Regions from separate parts of the Homo sapiens genome. Here region 2 is linked to region 1. Evidence: fine-mapped expression QTL. Tissue or cell type: lung. Region 1 holds a variant in brackets; the other region holds the start of a gene. All regions are shown on one strand. Distances are between the middles of the regions.

The links. PIP is the estimated chance that this variant, and not a neighbour inherited with it, causes the effect.
Region 2: LNC-LBCS starts here. The variant in region 1 is fine-mapped to the expression of LNC-LBCS in lung (TOPMed, PIP above 0.99).

What each region holds. Positions count from the first base shown.
Region 1 is chr6:19,776,737-19,784,920 of GRCh38, reverse strand. The region is part of intron 2 of LNC-LBCS (lncRNA bladder and prostate cancer suppressor, hnRNPK interacting); the gene reads left to right. Among named protein-coding and RNA genes, the nearest start is that of LNC-LBCS, 24 kb to the left of the region's middle. The variant AC/C (reference allele first, on the strand shown) is at 3,245.
Region 2 is chr6:19,801,064-19,809,247 of GRCh38, reverse strand. It overlaps LNC-LBCS (lncRNA bladder and prostate cancer suppressor, hnRNPK interacting), which reads left to right and starts at 4,489. Exons shown (of 4, transcript NR_134651.1): 1 at 4,489-4,573; 2 at 7,092-7,161. LOC105374963 (a long non-coding RNA gene) reads right to left here and starts at 1,326. Exons shown (of 5, transcript XR_007059488.1): 1 at 1,263-1,326; 2 at 1-65. RefSeq lists a silencer at 4,521-4,570.

The DNA.
Region 1 (8,184 bases):
TTAACATTTCTTTCCTAATATTTTGTAGTTTTCAATGCAGAGGTCATGCAGATGTTTGTTAGGTTTACACCTAAGTATCAGAATTTTTAAAAAACGACTTTTGTTGATGTTTTAATGTGTCAATTTGACTAGACTACAGTCTCCAGTTAGTCGAACACTTACCTATGTCATGCTATGAAGGTATTTTGCATATGTGATTAAAGCCATTAACCACTTAACCTTAATAAGAGAGGTTACCCTAGAAAATCTGGGTGGGCCTTACTGAATAGTGGGATGGCCTTCAAAACAGGGCTGAAGTTTTTCTTTTTTCTTTTCTTTTTTTTTTTTTGAGACGAAGTCACTCACTGTCACCCAGGCTGGAGTGCAGTGGCAAGATCCCGGCTCGCTGCAACCTCCACCTTCTGGATTCAAGCAATTCTCCTGCCTCAGCCTCCTGAGTAGCTGGGATTACAGGCATGTACCACCACGCCTGGCTAATTTTTGTATTTTTAGTAGAGATGGGGTTTCACCATGTTGGTCAGGCTGGTCTCGAACTCCTCTTCTCGTGATCCGCCCGCGTAGGCCTCCCAAAGCGCTGGGATTACAGGCGTGAGCCACCGCGCCTGACCCCAGGTTTTTGTTACAAAGAGATGAAATTCTGTCTGTGGATGACAGTGCTGGCCTGTGCCCGTGAGTTTCATTCTGCTCATGATCTTTCCTTCCTGGTTCCCTGGGCTAGGGATGTTGGACTTGCTTAGTCAGCCTCCACGATAGTAAGCTAATTTTCTGTAATGAATTATCTACCTACCTACATAATCTATTTATCATTTTATCATCTACCTCCCACTGGTGCTGCTTCTCTAAGTGAGCACTGTCTGATACAGATTTTGGTACTGGATGTGTTTCGAAAAGAACAGAATCTTAAGGATGAATTCTCTGAATTGTTGCTGAGCAGTACCTGGAATGATGTAGTCAAAGCATTGCTCAAATTATTGCCAGTGGATGCCTCTAATCAAATCCCAATACCTCAGAAATATTACAACACTTTAATTAAGGTCATTAGATACCAAGGAGCAGGACCAGGATTTAAACCTCGATTTGTTGGACGAAGGTGTTAGCAGCTATGCTCTGCTGCTAGTGCCCATAGGCACTAGATTTACTTTGAGAGAAATTAATGTTTTAAGATTCACACTCTATATGATTCTATAGGTTAAATATCTTTTTTCTCTTTTTGGTATTATTGGGAAGAATATATGGTTTGGGAGATGTTAGATACGGGGAGAAACACCAGAGGGATTGACAAGCATTTTCTGATCAGATTTGGAATATTTAGTTCTATTCAAATCTTCACTACTCATTTTTCAGTGGTTTGTTTTTACTCTTGTGATGTCAAAGACCATATTAATTCACTCATATTCAAAAGCCAAAGAGACTTAAAAGCCAAAAAGAATGTATTTAAAAACAATCTTCTTGCTGTTTACAGCAGCCTAATATGTATGAGACCTCTCTTCTTGGAAGGAAGGATGAGCACAAGGAGCTATAATGGGCTTGATTTCCTTGGCCAGCGCGGGCAGAATGTTTTTGCATAGAGATTTGCAGGAACAATACCTGCTGCATTTTAATTTTTACAGAGACCGAAAGTACGTGTGAAAGTATGTGTGAGCTGAATGCACCCCATGTGAACCTTGCAATTCTAATCTCCAAGGGAAACAAGAACTTCATGGGTCCTAAGCCACCCCTGGAGCAAACATATCCAGGCACAGCCGTCTGTGAATGAGCAGGGCCAAAGCATGCTGGGTGCAGAGCTTTACCCAAAGGACTGTTTGGGGCAACTCTTAATTCCTAAGGCATGGGGTATGATAGGGTATAGAAAATCTGTTAGGAAAAGAACAACCTAAAGAAAAAAAAGGGAGCAAGGAATGGCAAAACATTGGATTCGATCTTCCAACTTCATTGAAGGAAAACTGTGTGAGATTAAAGAAAGCATGTGCCACAGATGCAGCCGGGAATGGCCGGGGGCGAGGCAGAAGTACAAATGCTGCTTTAATATATTGGAATAGAAAGACTTCTGGCTCTTGTATTATGTCTCAGAAACTTCAAGTTTGCTCCTTGGGAGATACATTTAATTAATTAATATACATTTTGCTGACTTTGGGATTTGCAGAAGGCAAACAGTATTTGTATTTTCATGTCTCACAATAACCTAGTGAGATGGAGTTGTTATTCCCATTTTCCAGACAAGCTAACTGAGTCCAGTGACTTGTCTAAGATTCTCAAGGAAGCTGGGAGATACATCTCTTGAATATTTTTCAAATAGTGTCTTGAAAAAATAATGAGCACTTTTATTTCCAAAATATACTTTTGTGAGTCTCTTAGCTTCTCTGATTATCAAATAACATGTTGAGGTTGGCAAGGCAGGTGTTATGATGGTAAATGTGCCTACTTGAGGAAACTGAGGCTCAGCATTGAGTGACACCACCATTCAGCCATGGAAACTAGAAACCGTGGACTACATCCATTCTATTCCCTGGCCAGCGTAGAACTACTTATACACTGTAACTGTAACCTCCCAGCCTTTACACAGTTTCTCTCCCTGCAATACCCACACTGTGATGGTTAATTTCATGTGTCAACTTGACTGGGCTACAGGATGCCCAGATATCTGGTAAAGCATCATTTCTGGCTATGTCTGTGAGGGTATCTGCAGAAGAGATTAGCATTTGAATTCATGGACTGAGTGAAGAAGATCCACTCTCATCAATGTGGGTGAGCACCATACAATCCTTGAGGGCCCAGATAGAACAAAAAGGCAGAAAAGGGGTGAATCTTCTTGAGCTGGGACGGCCAACTTCTGCCCTAGGACCTCAGAATTCCTGCTCCTTGGGTCTTGAAACCCCAGAACTTACACCGTTGGCTTGCTTAGTCTTCAGGCCTTGGGCCTTGTACTGAATTACACTACTGGCTTTCCTGGTTCTTCTGCTTGCAGATGGCAGATTGTGGGACCTCTCATCTTCCATAATCACGGGAGTCAATTCCCATAATGTATTTTCTTATCTCTCGCGCTCTCTCTATATATATCCTATTGGTTCATTTCTTTGGTAAACTCTAACTCCAACTCCTGAGCCTGACCGTCAGGCTTTTGAGAGAGGGCTCAAGGTCACCACAGCTGGAGCAGGGGCTGAACTGTGGCTGGGACCTGTGGGGCTCATCTCTGGAGCTACTGGAAGAGGAGTCTGCCTAGTGCCCCACAGCTAGAAAAAGGCGA[AC/C]ATTCTCGCTGGGGTGGGGATTGGGGGTGGGCAGGAAAAAGCTGTTTTGCGAATATTAAGTCTTTGAGGGTGTTCCATACAGAATTCACCAGATGAACAGTACCGGGCCATCACAGCCTTTGGCTCAGTCATTCCTCAGGCTAAGAGAAGCCCTCTCTTTCACTAACAGAGCTATCTTCCAAAGTCTGCTGTGAAACCAAACATCAATGTTTTGCTCCACCAACAGGCTACTGAGAGGTAATGATTAGCTGGCTACCATTGATTGAGTGCTCACTAAGTGAGGAAGTGCATTACTTACGTGGCCTCATTAAGACCTCTTGAGGTTACTCCAACTGACAGAAAGGGAAAATGAGGCCGGGCAAGGCACACAGATGTGCCCAAAGTTTCCTACTTGGTAATGAGCCCAAGCAGGGCCTGAACATGTCACATGGGAGGGTGCATGTTTGACGCCTCTTAATTTAATTTACTTCGAGCCAGAGCAGGAAGGAAGGTCATTTAATACTGTACTTGAAAACTGATTTTTGCTCTACTAAAGATGCCACTACTGAATTTTCCCAGGGAATGAGCTGAGTCCTGCTTTCTTTCTATTAATTACCTGTGCAGGCAGCCTTGCACTTTTAATATTGCCTCACACCTGAGACTCTTTCAAGGTTATTTGACTGCATGCTAAGGTGAAGAAAATTCTTTTCAAACATTAGTGCTTAATGGACTTCAGCTCAAAGCAACTGAACCACCTACAGTGTACAGCACTGTTCTGCCCCCCAATCCCCACCCAAATAAAGATAAAACTGGTCCCTAGTCTCCAGGAGCTTTTAGTCTTTGGAAAAAGCATTATATTCAAATGAGGTAGGTAGACATTGTTCTAGACAGACACTAATCTGTGACAATAAGTACATAGAATAGTGCTAATGAACAATGATAAATACTTTGACAAAATGTACTTAATAATACAGAGCAATGACCAGTCAGAAAAATGTCAGGTAGGATTTGAATAATTCCAAGGAATATTTGATGAGAGCATTTCCCCTGGTTTTAAGGGTAATTTTGAAAGTATTAATTTGTTGCATGAGATTTAAAAAAAAAAACCCATATTACCACTTAATTAAAATTTTTTTGATATAGACTTAGGGAGAAGTGGTCAAGAGTAGCCAACCATCCGCTTTGTCAATTCTGGATAGAGTCAGAAGAAAAATACTATTTCCTATGTGTAGATATTCCATGAATTAATACAAAACATCAGTTCTTAGAATAGTCATTGGTGTATACTATAAATTCAGCAAATATTAGATACTATTTCAGCAAATATTTGATATTATTATTACGTCTTTGATGAAGCAATTGTTTGTATTTCAGGGAATGGTTCAAATGAATATGTTACATAATGCATAATGTTTTGTGATTGAGTTGGATCCCCTGTGGTTTATTTTTCCTTGCAAAAAGTCAGGCTTTTCCATTTTGTATTTTTGTCAGTAGAGTGTCTTAGGTAAAATGCATAGCTTTGTAGCCCAGCTCAATAACTACACCCCTTCAGGTATTTTCTGGTATTTATTTCACAAATCCGTACATTTTTAAAAGAACAGATACCGTTTTTAGTAATTCAAAAATGTTTTCTAGGTACTTGTTTATATTCAAAGTCTGTTATCTTGGATGAACATTCCCCAAAACATGCACCAGACATTTTTCTCATATTTTGGATTGTCAATGTGAAATGTACTTAAAATTTCCCACAGCATCAGTTTTCTTTGTAAATTTTCAACACATTTCATATGCTTCTATAACAGATAATGCCTTGTTCTGCATTTACTTTCAAGAAAATGACTTCTATGGTTTTATACCTTTACCTCATATTAAAAATACACTAATAAGCTTGTTGTCACGGGGAACTATCTTTGTGTCAAACTGAATGTAGCATTTGAAGAAGCCATTTACAATGAGGAAGTTTCCATTTCTGAGCACTGTTGATATTAAGGTGCTGAATTACCTGCCCTGGTGGTTAAGTGTTCCCAGCCATTGCTGTCTTGCTCAACTGACTTGAATTTTGTAGAAGCTGAACTATTTGCAGGTCACACCGTTATGTGCAAGGTGAAAGTTCTTCCCTAGTAAGGAACACTTGAAGTATAAATAGTAAGCTTAGTAGAGTGAAACAAATTGCCTGTCGTGATGAACTCACTGATGTGTTATTTGTGTTCCTTTCTGTCTACTTAGTCAATATAATGAAAATAATATGTTCTCATAAAAATTTGGAAATTATAGAAAGGAATAAAAAATACGCATCGACAATCACTGTTAACATTTTTATGTATGTCTTTTGATCTCCTGTGTGTATTAAAAAATCATTGAGATATGTACACATCATTTTGTATCTTTTTAAAATACAGGCTGAGCGCAGTGGCTCACGCCTGTAATCTCAGCACTTTGGGAGGCCAAGGCAGGTGGATCATTTCAGGTTAGGCATTCAAGACCAGCCTGGCCAACATGGTGAAACCCCATCTCTACTAAAAATACAAAAAATTAGCTGGCCGTGGTGGCAGGCGCCTCTAATTCCAGCTACTCGGGAGGCTGAGGCAGGAGAATCGCTTGAACTCGGGAGGCAGAGGTTGCAGTGAGCCAAGATCGCACCACTTCACTCCAGCCTGGGCGACAGAGCGAGACTCCGTCTCAACAAAAAGACAAAAAAAAAATACATCCCATTATAGCATTTTCGATCTGCCAGTCATTTTTTCTATAATCATAACTGGCTAATGTCCATGTTTGTAAATATAGAATCCTGTATTTTAGACTTGCCAGCCAACAGACTATACTCACATATTGTTTTCTCATGTCTGTAGTCATTTGGTCCATCATAGATTAAATGTCCATGAATAGAAAATGTGAGTCTGCTTGGCCAGGTGCGGTAGCTCACGCCTGTAATCCCAGCACTTTGGGAGGCCTAGGCGGGTGGATCATGAGGTCAGGAGATCGAGACCATCCTGGCTAACACAGTGAAACCCCGTCTCTACTAAAAATACAAAAAATTAGCCGGGCGTGGTGGCGGGTGCCTGTAGTCCCAGCTACTCGGGAGGCTGAGGCAGGAGAATGGTGTAAGTAAACCTGGGAGGCAGAGTTTGCAGTGAGCCGAGATCACGCCACTGTACTCCAGCCTGGGCAACAGAGTGAGACTCTGTCTCAAACAAACAAACAAAAAAGGTGTGTCTGCTTTAAGACATTGCCACATGGCTCAAACATTCACTTGATGTCTCTTCATTTTATTTGTCTATGTCCATAACCTTTTGGAAAAATTTCATTGATTAATTTGCTCGCTATTCTGAGATAGAAGTAAGGCATCAGAGCAGTTTATTTCTTGATATCACTCCTGCTCACTGTTTTGAAGAGGCCTAGCAAGTAGAAAACTTAAAGTAGTTTTCCTAGAATAGAATATCAACCGGGACCAGTAACTCCACAATCGTTGTTACGGAAGAGTCCATACTTATGTCCACAAATTACATATATTATGTAACCCTGACATCTAAACTCAAGGAAGAATTTTACATTATTCTGATTACAATAAAGGGTGATGGGTGCACCAAAATCTCGGAAATCACCACTAAAGAACTTATTCATGTAACCAAACACCACCTGTTCCCCCAAAAACCTATGGAAATAAAAAAATAAATAGGAGCATTTGTAAAATAATATTTTTAACTTAATATATTGCTAGGTGACTTTTTTTGAGTTGAGGCTGATATTTTGCACTGTGAATTCCACCAGTCTAAAAATAAAGCTTCTGGAAAGCTTTTCCTGGATATGAACTGTAGTAATGAGGAGGCACCTGCATGTCCACATAGGATATACATGGGATTGATTGCAACCTCCTATTTTTTGTTAGCTTTATTGAGGCATAATTTACATATAATAAAATTCTTTTTTTGGCCAGGTGCGGTGGCTCACACCTGTAATCCCAGCACTTTGGGAGGCCGAGGAGGGTGAATCACCTGAGGTCAGGAGTTCGAGACCAACCTGGTCAACATGGTGAAACCACATCTCTACTAAAAATACAAAAATTAGCCAGGTGTGGTGGTGCATGCCTGTAATCCCAGCTACTCGAGAGGCTGAGGCAGGAGAATTGCTTGAACACGGGAGGCGGAGGTTGCAGTGAGCCAAGATCATGCCATTGCACTCCAGCCTGGGCAACAGAGTGAAACTCTGTCTCAAAATAAATAAATAAAAATTAAAAAATTCATTTTTTTTCTTTTAGATACAGGATCTTGCACACTGCACAGGATGGAGTGCAGTGGTGTGATCATAGCTCACTGCAGCCTCAAACTCCTGGGCTCAAGGCATCCTCTTGCCGCCCAAGTAGCTGGGACTACAGGTACACACCACCACACTGGCCAACTAAAAAAATTCTTTTTTTGTAGAGACGGGAATCTCACTGTGTTGCTCAGGCTGGTCTTGAACTCCTGGCCTTAAGTGATCCTCCTGCCTCGGCCTCCCAAGTCGCTGGGATTGCAAGTGTAAGCCACTACCCCGGCCTAAAATTCAATTTTAAGCGTATAATTTGATAAATTGTGACAAACATATGCAGCTCTGTGACAACTACCACAATCGTGATATAGAACATTTCCATTACGACTAAAAGTTGCAGTGGGCCTCTTGGCAGTGACTTCCTTCACCTGCCTCTTTACTCCATGGTAATAATGATCTGCTTTTTATCACTATAGTCTGGCTTTTCTAGAAATTCATATACATGGAACTTTATAGTCTTTTTTGTCTGGTTCTCTCATTTAATATAATGCTTTTTGTAACATCTTATTGTTTGTTATCAGTTCATTCTTATTTGTTGCTAAATAATATTTCACTTATTATTTAATCTCTTCACCAGTTGATAGGTATTTGAGTTCTTTCTAGTTTTTCACAATTACTGACATTAAAAATAAAGCAGCTCTGAACTTGAGCACAA
Region 2 (8,184 bases), 24 kb before region 1:
TAAAAGTTCCAATGGTCCAAGTCGCTATTTTAAGTGCTCATTCATCAGTTCTAAACCTAAAGAGGCTGTTAAAGTAGATTATTAAAGCAAAGCTAAAATCAAGTAAAATAACTGCACTGCCACACTATGGTACCATATAGGTTCATAAACCAGGTTTATCATTTCCATCCAGTCACGTGCCAAATCACTGTTCCTTCTCTCGCCAATGAGAGATATCAGGGTATGTTCACAACTAAACCATGACAGTTAATGAGGGATGGAAGACATTGAGCTTAGAGAATGTGCTATAAACCATCAAAATCCACCACCAAACACACCCAGTATTAAAAATGATCTAGTGCTAGTATAACAGTTAACACTGGGGGTAATGTTCAGGGGCAGAAATGAAGCCTACAAAATGAGCTGGTGACTGTATATTAGATTAGTGATTCTCAACACTGACTGCCCATTATAATCACCTAGGGAGGCTTTAAAAATACTGATTCTAGGGCTCCACTCCCAGAGATTCTGATTAAATTTCTGTGGGGTGGAGCTCAGGAATTCCCACTGAAAAAAAATAGTAATGCCGATGTGAGGTCAGGGTTGAAAAATGCTTCATTGGACCATGGGAGGGATGGAGGGAAGTTTTTTCCTTTTCTTACATAAATGGATGATTTAATCAGCTGGTGGCAGCCATTACAATTCATGCAAACACAAAATTTTTCTGATTCACCTCTTCACCTGATATTTTCTCATCTTCCCTAGACCAAACCTTCCCCAAAACTCCATGCTTGGACTATTAATATTATTTCCTATGGGTCTCTTCGCTTGTTTTCGTTCTTCCCTCATATTTTCACCTTGCACAACAATGACAAGTGGCTTTTCTTATATCAAAGACTCTATGTGTAAGGTATTTGTCATCTAAATTTCTCAGGTTCGGCTTCCATTCTGAGCTCTGCCATTATCTAATGAGATTGTACTGCTGCTCAGTTTCAACTACACCAAATTAAATTGGGTAACCTCTAAGGTTGTCTTACCCCACCAGTAAATCTTCAATCCCATTTTTTATAGTTTCCCTAAATATTTTTAATTGAAGTCAGACAAAATCTTCTTCACCCCTCAACTTATTTTTTGCTCCTTTCCTTCCAATGCAATTGTTATTTATGCTGTTTCTTCTGCTTTTTCATTCCCTCAGCCAATCATATGCACAATCACGTGGCTCAAGCTCATCTTCTCCACAGGTTTTAGGAACCCAGACCACTTTATATCCATTATATTCTTACTTTATGCTTTCCTTGGTACTCTGTGGTCAAGATTCTCTTTATTCAAAGTGCAGTTCAGGGTTAGCAATATCAACATCACTTGGGGGCTTGTTAAAGATGCAGAATCCCAAGCCTCTTCTGCATTTCATCCAATTGCCAGGTGACTTCATGCACATCAAGATAAACTGGCCTATACCCGTTTATTAGCACTTGCTTTGTTTTCTAGTTTCTCTCTTTCTTTCTTCCTTCCTTCCTTTTCTTTTTCTCTCTCTCTCCCCTTTTTTTTTTTGAGATGGAGTCTTGCTCTGTTGCCCAGGTGGGAGTGCAAGTGGCACCATCTCGGCTCACTGCAACCTCTGCCACCTTCAAGTGATTCCCCTGCCTCAGCCTTCTGAGTAGCTGGGACTACAGGCGTGCATCACCACACCCAGCTAATTTGTTTTTTTTTTTTTTAGTAGAGATGGGGTTTCACCATTGAGAGGTGACAGCGTGCTGGCAGTCCTCACAGCCCTTGCTCGCTCTCGTCGCCTCCTCTGCCTGGGCTCCCACTTTGGCGACACTTGAGGAGCCCTTCAGCCCACTGCTGCACTGTGGGAGCCCCTTTCTGGGCTGGACAAGGCCGGAGACGGCTCCCTCAGCTGGCAGGGAGGTGTGGAGGGAGAGGCGTGGGCGGGAACTGGGGCTGCAGGTGGTGCTTGCGAGCCAGCGCGAGTTCCAGGTGGGCGTGGGCTTGGCAGGCCCCGCACTCAGAGCAGCCCACCAGCGGTGCCGGCCCCGGGCAGTGAGGGGCTTAGCACCTGGGCCAGCAGCTGCTGTGCTCAATTTCTCGGTGGGCCTTAGCTGCCTTCCCACGGGGCAGGGCTTGGGACCTGCAGCCCGCCATGCCTGAGCCTCCCCCGACGTCCGTGGGCTCCTGTGCGGCCTGACCCTCCCTGATGAGCACTGCCCCCTGCTCCATGGTGCCCAGTCCCATCCACCACCCAACGGCTGAGGAGTGTGGGCCCACTGCGCAGGACTGGTAGGCAGCTCCACCTGCGGCCCCAGTGCGGGATCCACTGGGTGAAGCCACCTGGGCTCCTGAATCTGATGGGGACTTGGAGAATCTTTATGTCTAGCTAAGGGATTGTAAATACACCAATCAGCACTCTGTATCTAGCTCGAGGTTTGTAAACACACCAATCAGCACCCTGTGTCTAGCTCAGGGTTTGTGAGTGCATCAATGGACACTCTGTATCTAGCTACTCTGGTGGGGACTTGGAGAACCTTTGTGTGGACACTCTGTATCTAGCATCATCTAGTGGGAATGTGGAGAACCTTTGTGTCTAGCTCAGGGGTTGTAAATGCACCAATCAGCGCAAACAGACCACTCAGCTCTCTGTAAAATGGACTAATTAGCAGGATGTGGGTGGGGCCAGGTAAGAGAATAAAAGCAGGCTGCCCCAGCCAGCAGTAAAAAGCCGTTCGTGTCCGCTTAGGTGCTGTGGAAGCTTTATTCTTTCGCCCTTTGCAATAAGTCTTGCTGCTGCTTACTCTGTGGGTCCCCACTGCCTTTATGAGCTGTGTGCTACTCACCGTGAAGGTCTACAGCTTCACTCTTGAAGCCAGCGAGACCACAAACCCACCAGAAGGAATGAACAACTCCAGACAGGCCGCCTTATGAGCTGTAACACTCACGGGGAAGGTCTGTAGCTTCACTCTTGAGCCAGCGAGACCATGAACCCACCAGAAGGAAGAAACTGAACACATCAGAAGGAACAAACTCCAGACACGCCGCCTTTAAGAACTGTAACACTCACCGCGAGGGTCTGCGGCTTCATTCTTGAGGTAAGTGAGACCAAGAACCCACCAATTCCGGACACCATGTTGGTCAGGCTGGTCTCGAACTCTCCCTCGGCCCCACAGAGTGCTGGGATTCAGGCATGAGCCGCCAGGCCCTTAACTTTTATTCCAAAAAAATTTCAGTTAAAACTTCCAGTACATAGTATTTGCATAGCAGGGACCCTGAAGTGTTTGTTAAATGAATGTCACATATATCACATACTGTGATAGGAATAAAGTCATTCGTTTGAAAGGTTGATAAATACAATGATAGACTGCTAGAACTTCATGAGTCTTAAGAGAATATCTCACCAGATCTCATCTTCCAGATTTAAAAAGGGGGGCACAGACTTCAGCAGGAAGGGCTGATTTAACGACATCTACTATAATGTGAGTCTGGGCCACACTCTGGTTTTCCAGTTTCAGTAATGATGCATCACTACTCTTGAAAAACCACCAGAAACCAACAAGTAAGCACCCAAAAAGATGTTTAGGAATTCAGAAGTACTCCTTTTACTCTAGCCTTAAAATTATTTGCTCTTGCATTGTGGATTACCCATCAACAATGTCCAGTCCTTACCAGGAGTCAGGGAGAGCGTCAAATGCTGGGCATACTGAAATGACCTTAACCCAGTACTTGGCCACCTACAGGACACTGTAATGGAGAGCAAAGCAGGACAGAGGTAATGCAAAACACAAAAACACCAAAAAATTGGAAATCTTTGGAGCCATTTGCCTTCTAGAACCTTAAAGGCGCCCTATAGTCCCACACTATAGAATATTGGAAGAGCAGTCGGCTGTAAGTCTGAATCATGAGTTCCTTACACTTTTTTCTACCCAGTTCAATTTTGGGAACTTCCGAGTCCTGGTCCTTTCATTGTTTGTGATACCCAACACCCAGCACAATGCGGAGAGCACAGTAAGGTGGCAGTGAATTCATCAATACTTTCAAAGTCTATTTTATCTACAAGGACAAGTTTTATTGTATGTTTCCTTTTAAATAAGTGCCACAGTCGCAGTAAGTGAAAACATCCTGACACCACCCCAGCGGCCCCCCCAGCTCGTGGGCCTCCCCGCAGAGCGCGCGCCCGTGGGGGTAACCGGCGGAAAACTAGGGACGCGGGCACAGCCGCAGACTGGGCGTGGGGGGCACCGGAATGGCCGAGCCTGGGACGCTGGGACCTCTGGCCGCCGCGGGGCGACCAGGCGGGCGGAGACGTCTCGCGCCCTCCCGGGCCGCGCGGCTCCAGGCGCATTCCTGCACCCAGCTCCCGCGCGCCGCGCTGCGCTGCCTCCCCCGGACAGCTGATTCATTGGCTCGGCCGCCCAGACTGCCTGGCGCCGGCTGCGTGACGTCACCCATTCACGGAGCCCGCCTCCCCCGCTCCGCTGGCGCCGGCCGGGCGGTCGCCCTGACAACGCAGACGCCAGCCCGCACAATGACTTCCAGCTGGAGCAGCCCAGCCAGCCTGCGCGCTCACTCGCTTGCTTGCGCTGGGCTTCAGGGCGCCCGGGTGAGTTTTTTTCTCTCCCTCTCGTTTTTTTTTTTTTCCCAGGCTCTCGCGGGTTTCCCCTGCCAGGGAATCCACTCGCTGTAGTTTTCTAGGGCTCTGGTCCCAGTCCTTTCTGAAGCGCGCTTGCAGGCTGTCTTCCTCAGTCGCCCTCTCCCTGGGTGCTGTTTTGCTGGGCAGCATCCCATGCTAGGCTCGGCAGACATTCTGGCGGTTGGGTTCGGCCCTTACAGCGCTAACACCTGCAGAGTCGAGGCTCCTGCCAAAAGGCAGAAAGCAAAGGAGGAAAAAATTCATTGTCATAATAGCGAAAATGATAAACCTCAGCTGTTTAAGAGAAGAATGTCTGAGTAGCTGTTGATTATCTCCCATAATCACAAAACAACTTTTTTTTAAAAAGAATTTGCACTGTCTGTTAAAACGCGGTCATTGTTTTGCTTTCAAATCGAACTTCACGACAGTTAGCAACTTCAAGAACGCTTCCAAATGGATAAATCTTTCCAGAAGGTAAAACAAATCTGGGAAGTTGTAGCAGTGTAAATTGGAGAGTGTGTGAGGGTCGTATTTGGAGAGAGAGAGACACACACACAGGAGATTGGTGGTCTTGGGGCAAGGCAAATAGCTCATTCGCCCCCCCACACCTCCAGTTTCCACCCCAGACCTTTAAATCTTGAAGGTGGAGGAAAGGGAGACGTAGCTGTTGATTAGAGTTGGGTGGGAGGTAATTCTTATTCTAAATTTTCATTTTATTTATTTTTTGGTGCCAGATTTCTTGCTTCAAAACAGCTGCATTTTTGGAAGAAAGTCCACAACTGACAACTAAGCAAAACCCTCCTGGTGGATAGCATAAATCTGCTTTGTTGAAGCTGCTCATTTGTCTGATCTATGAGTCCAGAAGATGCAAACTCCCTTCCCAGCTTATGCAAAAATACTTCCAGTAAAAACAAGCCCTTTGGCCCTTTTCTTTTGTCAGTCCAGATTTCAGCATGTTCTTCGCTTTGTTATTCATCATTTTATGTATTTGGACCCATCCTCAAACAGACTTTAAACCGTTTAAAGGCAAGGAGGGACTCTTTCGTAAACCTTTAATCCCCTGGCCCAGCTGAGTAGATGCACAGTGTCTTTTGATGATGGTGATATGGAATGATTAATAACCACACAAGGCATTCGGTTGGTCAAGTCACTGTTTATTGGCTCAAAATAATCCTTGGTTTCTGTATGTCTACAGCTCACTTCCTAAACAGTTAAATCCGGAGAAGTCTAATAGATAATAGTTGGTGATCATAAATATAAATAACCAATACATTAGAATGTGTAGTCAAAATAGGAATACTTGCTTTTCACTTACTTCCCACGGGTCGCTGCTGGTGGTAGTCAACACAAATAAAAATTTGAACTCATTTTGTTATTCATCTAAAATGAGAAACTCGGTGAAACATTGATTTTCTAAAATTGCTGCATATTTAAATGTGATTATAATTGCTTTTTAGCATTTTAAAATTGTAACATCGATACCAAATGCTTAAGAATCTAAAGAATAGTCTATTGGGGCTGGCCTATTTTGTGTAAAATGGTCTGTATCATAATGGATGACTGATTATCCCATCCACATTATTTGGATTCACTTAATACTAGGTTTTAACGTTAGGAGAATAAAACCCTCAAGAAACCTAACATAGATTTGTATATTTAGTTTTCTCCTTCCTTATCATCTTCCACCAGACTTACAGGTGTTCCACCTGCTTGTAGTTTCGGTAATAATACCAGCTGGCGGTGGTTCCTAACTCTAGCTACACTTTAAAATTACCTCGTGCATTTAAAAAAAAAATGCAGTTGTTTAGGTTCTTCCCCTAGATATTTTAATTTACAAGGTTTGGGATGTGGCCTGGGCACCGATTTTTTTAACTTTTTATTTGAATGTAGACTTACAGGAAGTTGCAAAGATAGTACAGAGAGGTCTGATAGAGCCTCCACTGTTGGTTACATCCCGCATAGCTAGAGCACAATAATAAAGCCAGGACATTGACACTGAGATAAAATGTGCCTGTGATTCTGTGTCACCTTATCCCTGAAGACTCTTGTAATCATTACCACAATCAAAATACAAACTATTTCAACACCACGAAGATCTCTCTCATACAGTCCCTTTATGGTCGTCCCTTTCTTTCCCCCACACCATCCCTAACCCTTTGCAACCATCAGTCTGTTCTCCATTTCTATAATTTTGTCGTTTGGGGAATGTTTTATAAATTGGTCCTCACAGCTTGTGACCTTCTAAGATTAGCTCACCATCCCCCCCACCCCCCCACCCCACCCAACTCAGCAGAATGCCCTAGAGATTTATCCAAGTTATTGCAGGTATTTCTAGTTTGTTCCTTTCTGTTACTGAGTTCTACACTATGGGTGTAACACAGTTTGTTTAATCATTCAGCATTCACCTATCATACATTTTGGTTCCTTCTTTTTTTGGGCGGGGGGAGTGCCTATTACAAATAAAACTGTCTTGAAAAATTGCTTGCAGGTTTTTCTGTGGACCTAAATTTTCATTTCTCTGGGATAAATGTCCAGGAGTGTGATTGCTGGGTCATATGGTAAGTATGTGTTTAATTTTTAAAGAAACTGCTGAACTATTTTCCAGAAATGTGGTACTATTTTACATTCCCAGCAGCCATATATGAGAGATCCAGTTTTTCCACATCCTTACCAGTATTTTGTATTGTCACTATTTTTTTACTTTTACTGTTCCGATTAGGTGTGCAGTGATACCTCACTCTGGTCTTAATTTGCATTTTCCTAATGACTAGGGATGTTGATCATTTTCTCATGTCTTTGCCATACACATATCCTCTTCAGTGAAATCCCTCTTCGTGTCATTTTCTTATTTTCTTGATTTGTTCTGTTACTGTTGAGTTTTGAAGGTTCTTTAAATTATAGACATGAGTCCTTTATCAGTTACATCAGCAGTCCTCAACCTTTTTGGCTTCAGGGACAAGTTTCGTGGAAGACAGTTTTTTCCACGGAAGTGGGGGTGGTGGGGGAAATGGTTTCCAGATGGAACTGTTCCACTTAAGATCATCAGACATTAGATTCTCATAAGGAGCATGCAAACTAGATCCCTCGCATTCGCAGTTCACAATAGGGTTCGCTCTCCTGTGAGAATCTGATGCCCTGGCTGATCTGACAGGAGACAGAGCTCAGGTGGTGAGGCTGGCTCAGGAGGTGCTTAACTCCTGCTGTGTTGCCAGCTTCCTAACAGGCCATTGACCTGTACCAGTCTGAGGCCCAGGACTTGGGGACCCCTGAGAGATGTGGTTTGCAAATAGTTTTTCCCAGTGTTTTTGCTGTCTTTTGGATCTTTTGGGCCACATCCGGTGGCTCACGCCTGTAATCCCAGCACTTTGGGAGACTTAGGCGGGTGAATCACCTGAGTCGGGAGTTCGAGACCAGGCTGACCAGCATGGAGAAACTCCGTCTCTACTAAAAATACAAAAATTAGCCGGGCCTGATGGCGCATGCCTGTAATCCCAGCTACTCGGGAGGCTGAGGCAGGAGAGTTGCTTGAATCTGGGAGGCGGAGGTTGCAGTGAGCCAAGATCGCGCAGTTGTACTCCAGC